2 linked regions of the Homo sapiens genome follow. The protein of the gene in region 1 purifies or fractionates together with the protein of each later gene. This does not show direct contact. Each region holds a gene or a part of one and is shown in the gene's direction. Other genes may lie near its edges.

The links. Proteins that work in one complex are often made in the same cells at the same time.
Region 2: the proteins of TMEM130 (region 1) and RHOBTB3 purify together in Homo sapiens (affinity purification with mass spectrometry; one large-scale study listed by BioGRID and IntAct). This does not show direct contact.

The regions. Positions count from the first base shown.
Region 1 is NC_000007.14:98,863,325-98,867,168, reverse strand, and holds part of TMEM130 (transmembrane protein 130 isoform b precursor), read left to right. Parts: intron 1-3,768; coding exon 3,769-3,844.
Region 2 is NC_000005.10:95,793,599-95,796,861, forward strand, and holds the end of RHOBTB3 (rho-related BTB domain-containing protein 3), read left to right. Parts: 3' UTR 1-2,763; downstream 2,764-3,263. UniProt on the Homo sapiens protein: Rab9-regulated ATPase required for endosome to Golgi transport. Involved in transport vesicle docking at the Golgi complex, possibly by participating in release M6PRBP1/TIP47 from vesicles to permit their efficient docking and fusion at the Golgi.

The DNA.
Region 1 (3,844 bases):
CATTCCCTTGGAAGTGACCAGCTCTCGGCATCTTGACTCAAATGACTTGATTTTTATTTATTTATTTTTGTAGAAAGGGTCTCTCACTTTGTTGCCCAGGCTGAAGGGCAGGGGCGCCATCATAGCTCACTGCAACTTCAAACCCCTGGGCTCAAGAGATCCTCCTGCCTCAGCCTTCCAAGTAGCTGGGGCAACAGGTGCACGCTACCATGCCTGGCTAATTTTTAAATTTTTTTTTTTGTAGAGAATGGGTGTCGCTGTGTTGTTCAGGCTGATCTAAAACTCCTGGGCTCAAGTGACCCTCTGGCTTCAAAGCGCTGTGATTACAGGTGTGAGCTGACTGGGCCCGGCCTCAAATGCCTTTATAATTTAAGAAATGGCTCTGAAAAAAAAGGAAATACGTGATGTGGGCCAAAGCAGCGAACGTGTGAGGTGGGCCTGAGGAAAGGTCGGAGCTGGAGTCCCCCACAGGGACAGGTGATGTTGCTTTGAAGTGAATGAGATGCGTCTGAAAAAAATAATCTCAGAGTTGCCTGGGCACTAGAAGGGGCTTCCCTTGCCCCCTCGATTCCTGCTTCTACTCCCCGGGCTGGCCCTGCCCTGGAAACCACACGAGGGTGGCCCACGCATCCGTCAGATGTCTGGGGACCATGTACCTGCTAAGGGAGGGGAGGACGAGGCAGGGACATGGGGATGTATCAGGGTCAGTCATCGTGCCACAACCCCCAGCCCCCAGGGAACACGGGATGGGCAGCATTTTTACTTTAAAATGTTGCCTCATCTAGAGGGGTTTTCCACCCTGTTGGTGCTGGCTTTGGGGAGATATGATTTTATTTGATTTATGTATTTATTTATTTGAGATGGAATTTCGCTCTTTTTGCCCAGGCTGGAGTGCAGTGGCGCAATCTCGGCTCACGGCAACCACCATCTCCCAGGTTCAAGTAATTCTCCGGCCTCAGCCTCCCGAGTAGCTGAGATTACAGGCGTTCGCCACCACACCCGGCTAATTTTGTATTGTTAGTAGAGACGGGGTTTCGCCATGTTGGCCAGGCCGGTCTCAAACGCCTGACCTCAGGTGATCCACCCACCTCGGCCTCCCAAAGTGCTGGAATTACAGGCATGAGCCACCGTGCCTGACCGAGATGCAATTTTAGAGCCCAGGAGGCCAGGCTGCTATTTCTTCCAGGAGTGATTTCCCAAAATGGACCTGGAGCTGACAGGTTCCTGGGGGGACTTGTGGGGGGACCTTGTGCCCACTCGGTCGTGCATCTACTGTCCCCACATCCCCATCGCCAGAAGGCCAGCACCCACCTTTCTGCCACATTTTGGGAACCATAAAAGGACCCAGATTGGAGACTTGTTGAGGGACAGGTGGGACGTGGGCAGCTAACGGGGTTGAATATTATCCAACAGTTTTCATCCCCCTCCCCCCTCATAATAGAGTGGCAGAGAGAGGGTAAGGGATCTAATGAAAATTTGTGAAAGAAAAACAAGGTAAAATAGTTGAAATAGTTGAAAACCACAAGGTCAAATAGTTGGCCTTTCTTTTTTTAAATTTTTTTGAGACAGTTTCGCTCTTGTCGTCCAGGCTGGAGTGCAGTGGCGCAATCTTGGCTCACTGCAACCTCTGCCTTCCGGGTTCAAGCAATTCTCCTGCCTCAGTCTCCCGAGTAGCTGTGATTACAGGCGCATGCCACCACACCTGGTTAATTTTGTATTTTTAGTAGAAACGGGGGTTTCTCCATGTTGGTCAGGCTGATCTGGAACTCCTGACCTCAGGTGATCCGCCCGCCTCGGCCTCCCAAAGTGCTGGAATTACAGGTGTGAGCCACCACGCCTGGCCAGCCTTTCTTGTTGAAAGCCCAGCAGGTCTCCTGTGAGGTCCCTCCAGGGAGGGGCTTGTTCTGTATTTCTGGATCCTCCCAACACGGTAGGGATGGGGTCCATGGAAGGGACTCAGTCAGTGCCACCTGGGTGAACAGTCTCCTGGGGCAGGGCCAGGTGGGCTGGTCCCTCTGCTGCACCTGCTCTCCGGGTGCCCCTTGGCAACAGCAGTACCAAACACCTGCTATGTGCCAAGCGTTGTGCTGGTCACAGGGATGATGGAAATGACCCCTGCTCTAAACGAGTTTGAAGCATAGCAGGAAAGGCAAAGAAACTTTCATTTCCACATGGAGTTGTGACAACAGTGGACTCAGCTGTCGGGAAAGAGCTGAGGGGGTGAGAGGTACAGGGAAGTGTTTTTATTGTTTGTTTTCTTTTGTTTTTGAGACGGAGTCTCACTCTTGTTGCCCAGGCTGGAATGCAGTGGCTCGATGTCGGCTCATTGCAATCTCTGCCTCTTGGGTTCCAGCGATTCCCCTGCCTCAGCCTCCTGAGTAGCTGGGATTACAGTCATGCACCACCACACCCAGCTAATTTTTTGTATTTTTAGTGGAGACAGGGTTTCACCATGTTGGCCAGGCTGGTCTCGAACTCCTGACTTCAAGTAATCCGCTTACCTCGGCCTCCCAAAGTGCTGGGGTTACAGGCATGAGCCATGATGCCTGGCCAACAGCTGGATCCTTTAACCCTGACAGAGAGAGAGGAGTGAGGAGAGGAGGAATCCAGAGGCATGAGACCAGCACTGTCCAGTAGATCTTTGGACAATGTGGTTGAGGACGCTGGCTCATGCCTGTAATCCCAGCACTTTGGGAGGCTAAGGCAGGAGGAGTGGTTGAAGCCAGGAGTTCGAGACCAGGCTGGGCAACATAGTGAGATCCTGTCTCTACAAAAAAAAAAAAAAAAGAAAAAAATCAGCCAAGCGTGGTGACTTGGACCTACAAGTCACAGCTACTTGGCAGGCTGAGGTGGGAGGATCACTTGAGCCCAGGAGTTTGAGGCTGCAGTGAGCTATGATCATGCCACTACACCCCAGCCTGGATGACAGAGGGAGATCTTGTCTCAAAACAAAACCAAAAGAATTCTGGGGAATGGTAGAAATGTTCTCTGTGTGGCCTGTCCAGAAGAGTAGCCACTAACCAAGGCCCTGCCCGGCTGGCAGGAAAAACAAAATATAATTTGGGCAGCCTGGGCAACATAGACCCCCATCTCTACAAAAAATAAAAAATTAGCTGGGTGTGGTGGTGTGTGCCTATAGTTTCAGTTATTTGGGAGGCTGAGGCAGGAAGATCTCTTGATCCTAGAAGGTGGAGGCTGCAGCGAACTGTGATGATTGTACTCCAGTCTGGGTTACAGAGTGAGATCCAGAGAACGAAAGGGAGAGAGAGAGAGTGAGAGAGAGAGAGAGAGGAAGAAAGGAAGAAAGAAAGAAGGAAGAAGAAAGAAAAGGAAGGAAGGAAGGGAGAAAAAAAGAAAGAAGAGAAAGAAAGAAAAAAGAGAGGAGGGAGGGAGAGAGGAAGGAAGGAAGGAGAGAGAAAAGAAAAGAGAAAGGAAGGAAAGGAAAGAAAAAGAAAGGAAGGAAGAAAAGAAAGAGAAGCAGGGAAGGAGGAAGGAAGGAGGGAAGGAGGAAGGAGGGAAGGAAGAAGGAGGGAGGGAGGGAGGGAAGGAAGGAAGGGGAAATAAGACTGAAAAGACTGTGATTTGGAGTCAGTGGGACCCAGGTTTGATGTCGAATTGGCTGAGTGACCCTTGGGCAAGTCACTTGAGCTGCCTGAGCCTCAGTTTCTCCACCTGGGAAATAGAATAGTTGATGCCAGCCCAGAGGTGGCTGTGGGGCTCCTTGCCACACACCATTCTGAAACACAGTCTTTGTTTCTGGGCTCCTAGGCCTGTATGAACTCAATCTCACCACCGATAGCCCTGCCACCACGGGAGCGGTGGTGACCATCTCGGCCAGCCTGGT
Region 2 (3,263 bases), on another chromosome or scaffold:
CTAGGGGAAAACCAATCAGTCCAACATGAGATTTTAGGAATAGAAATTTGCCGGCCATTTGGAAAGTGAAATGCCACTTAGTTCTCAATTGATGACAGTGTTTGAATCATCATAAAAAAAATACCTGCTTTTCATCTGGACAACCCAATTGAGCCACTTTATCTCCTTTTGGCAATCTGAGTAGGCGGGGAACCTAGGCAGGGCTGGCTTTCTTAGCGTGTAACTTGTGTAGCAGCACAGGGCCCACACTTAGAAGGACCCCACACTTGGTTCAAGGCTCTGCTATAGCGGAAATTCTTAATAATGTTTGAAGAAGGGCCCCATGATTTCATTTTGTGCTGAGCCCTCAAAATTATGTCTGTTTCGTGGTGGGAAATATCCTATGTTTTCTTGCTCAAACACCTTTCTCTCTGAAAGCAGAAAAAGGCACTGATATAAAGGGAAGAGAAGGAGGCTCACCGGAGGGAAGAGAACATAGTGAAGATTCCCGCCTTTGGGGAGGTCTGGACCACCCAGGGCCTCCACTGCCACCTTGGCTGGCAAGGGAGAAATGTGTTGTGTTGTCTTAGCTTTAAAACAGTCACAGTTCTTGCTCTATCATAGATGAACAAATACTTTCTTGATCATTCTGTAAGACCAGGAGGTTGGTAAGAGTGACTAACCAGCCTAACTTTAATACACATGTATAAAGATGTTCACAGAGAAAGATGCTCTGTAGAGAATTTGCTACCGAAGTTGGCTCAAGAATTTGTTTTTAGTGTTATTTACCAAGATTAGGACGTCAGTGGCTTAAATTCTTTGAATTCTTTTCAAGGACTGCAAGATTATTTGATAAAGAGTAGCATGAATCTTGTGCTCTAATATTACACAGTAAGTTCAAAGAAAGGATGTAAGTCAAAGACTTGTTACATAGAGGGAAAATGGACTGGGATAGAGGACAGACTGATAGTTTCTTTCTTTCATATCACATGTATAGAGAAATAATTATATCAGAAACTCACAAACCTAGACATGGAAAAACAGATTACTGTCTATTGTCAGCATCATTTTCATCTGTAAGTCACTACTGGAATATATTTTTCTTTTAATTTCCAGTGACTTTAGAATACACACAGTTTTTCCGACTTTTCAAAAATTTGATTAAATGGTTTTATAGTATAATATTGGGACCCCATACCGTTAGCCCTTGTATGTATACCAACACTGCCAAAGTAAAACATTAGGTCAGGCATGGTGGCTCAGGCCTGTAATCCCAGCATTTTGGGAGGCTGAGGCAAGTGGATAACTTGAGGTCATGAGTTCGAAACCAGCCTGGCCAAAACAGTGAAACCCCGTCTCTACTAAAAATACAAAATTAGCCAGATGTGGTGGCGCACACCTGTAATCCCAGCTACTCAGGAAGCTGAGGCAGGAAAATCGCTTGAACCTGGGAGGTGGAAGTTGCAGTGAGCCGAGATCGCACCACTGCACTCCAGCCTGGGTGACAAGAGCGAAACTCCATCTCAAAAAAAAAAAAAAAACCAAAGTGAAACACTAAAAATTCCCTATAGATATATTCCAGGAAATATTTTAATTGGGCTGATTTTAATTAGGCTGTATCATTGATGATTACTGGAATCGATTTTATGTCTTTTGTATTTTAATCACTTGAGTTAATCAACCACTGGCAAATCCCATTTGACAAAGATTAGCATTGTAAAAAACAGATACTGTGGTAGATTTCTAGAAATTCATTCACATTTAAGACTTCTAAAATGGAATAATAGCCTTTTGTTTTTCATGAGCATATTCGCACCCCTATATGAATTACAGCATTTAAAGTTCAAAATCAGTAACTTTTAATCTAGGAAATTGAAAAATATTAAGTTGCAAAGCAAAAAAAGGTATTTTCTTGAAAATACTATTTAATGTTTAACTAGACTATAGGTAGTTCCTTAAGGTTGTTTGACCTGAAGTGGAGTTGGGTTTGGAAGCTGGTGCCCAGTTGGTGTGGAGTGTGTAGTTTTGTTATGAAAGTTCTCTACCACCTACCTGTGTGAGTGACACCAACATCCAGATGTCACAGCTCTCCAGAGCTAGTCAGAAGAGAAATCAAATTAGTGTTTAAACCCATTTGCATATTGACTTGTCAGTACCTTTAACTCAATTTAATATAACAAGAAATCGTAAAATACTTATAACCTATCTTAGAGAAATGAGTGCTGGTTTTGAGAGTTGTTTTTTAACTGAAAGATTATTTCTAGATGGGTAGTGCTTTGTGCTGGTTTCTGCTTCCATATATTTCCCAGTCATTTTAATTAGAGAAGATACTCTATGGTAGAACTAAGGCCTTTCCTTTCTTGGCCAAAGTCTTTACCCTATTTAACCCTTTGTATATTTCTGACTGCTCACTGTTCATATTATAGGGGACCAGATTTGTAATATAGAATTCTCCATAACATGAATGAAATTAATTCTGTCCAAGCCAGCATGGTGGCTTCATATTAAGTAGTAACAGAAGTCTGAACAATTGGATAAATTTGACTTCCAAGACAGCTAAACTTTTCAACTGCAATTTTAAAAACTACACTACACTGTTATAGTTAATCTGACAAAAATGTCCTCAAAGAGTACTTTATTTTATTTAAAGCATCTGTTTAATTCAACCTTTAATAATTTTGCAAAGAAGGGTATGTGTGTATTTTAATATAGCCTGACCTGAATTTATATGTTTTTAGCTTTAGTATTTAACTTTTTGTAACAAATAAACCTTTTTTAAAACAAGTTTAACGAAGTGTCCTGTAATTATTTTACCTTGGATGTTGAAATACTGAAATGATTTGGAGAATGCTGCCTTGTATTTCTCAAGCATAATTATGCTTCATAGATAATTTTCATTATGTGTAAAATATCTAGAATGTTGCTGATACTATAGCTGACTAATATGTGTGGTGAGATAAAGAAATTTATATTATCTTTAAAAGTCAAGACCAGAATTTATCTCAGCAAAATAACTGCCTTTATTTAGAAAAATGCTTTGATAATTAAACATAGAAGTGAGCCCCTTGTAGGCTTGAGTGTTGTCTGGGACCAAGGCTTGGGAAGTGGAGAAGCTGCTCTGATAATAGATGGAAAAGAATTTGGAACTTCCCAGGGCTGAGGAGCCCAGGTAGGGAGGGGAAAGAGACAAGGCAGCCATACCATGAGAATGGATGGTGCATGGAATGATGCAGTCCCTCCCCAGCAGGTTCCCAAATTTTCAGTAAAGCCTACTAAACTCATGA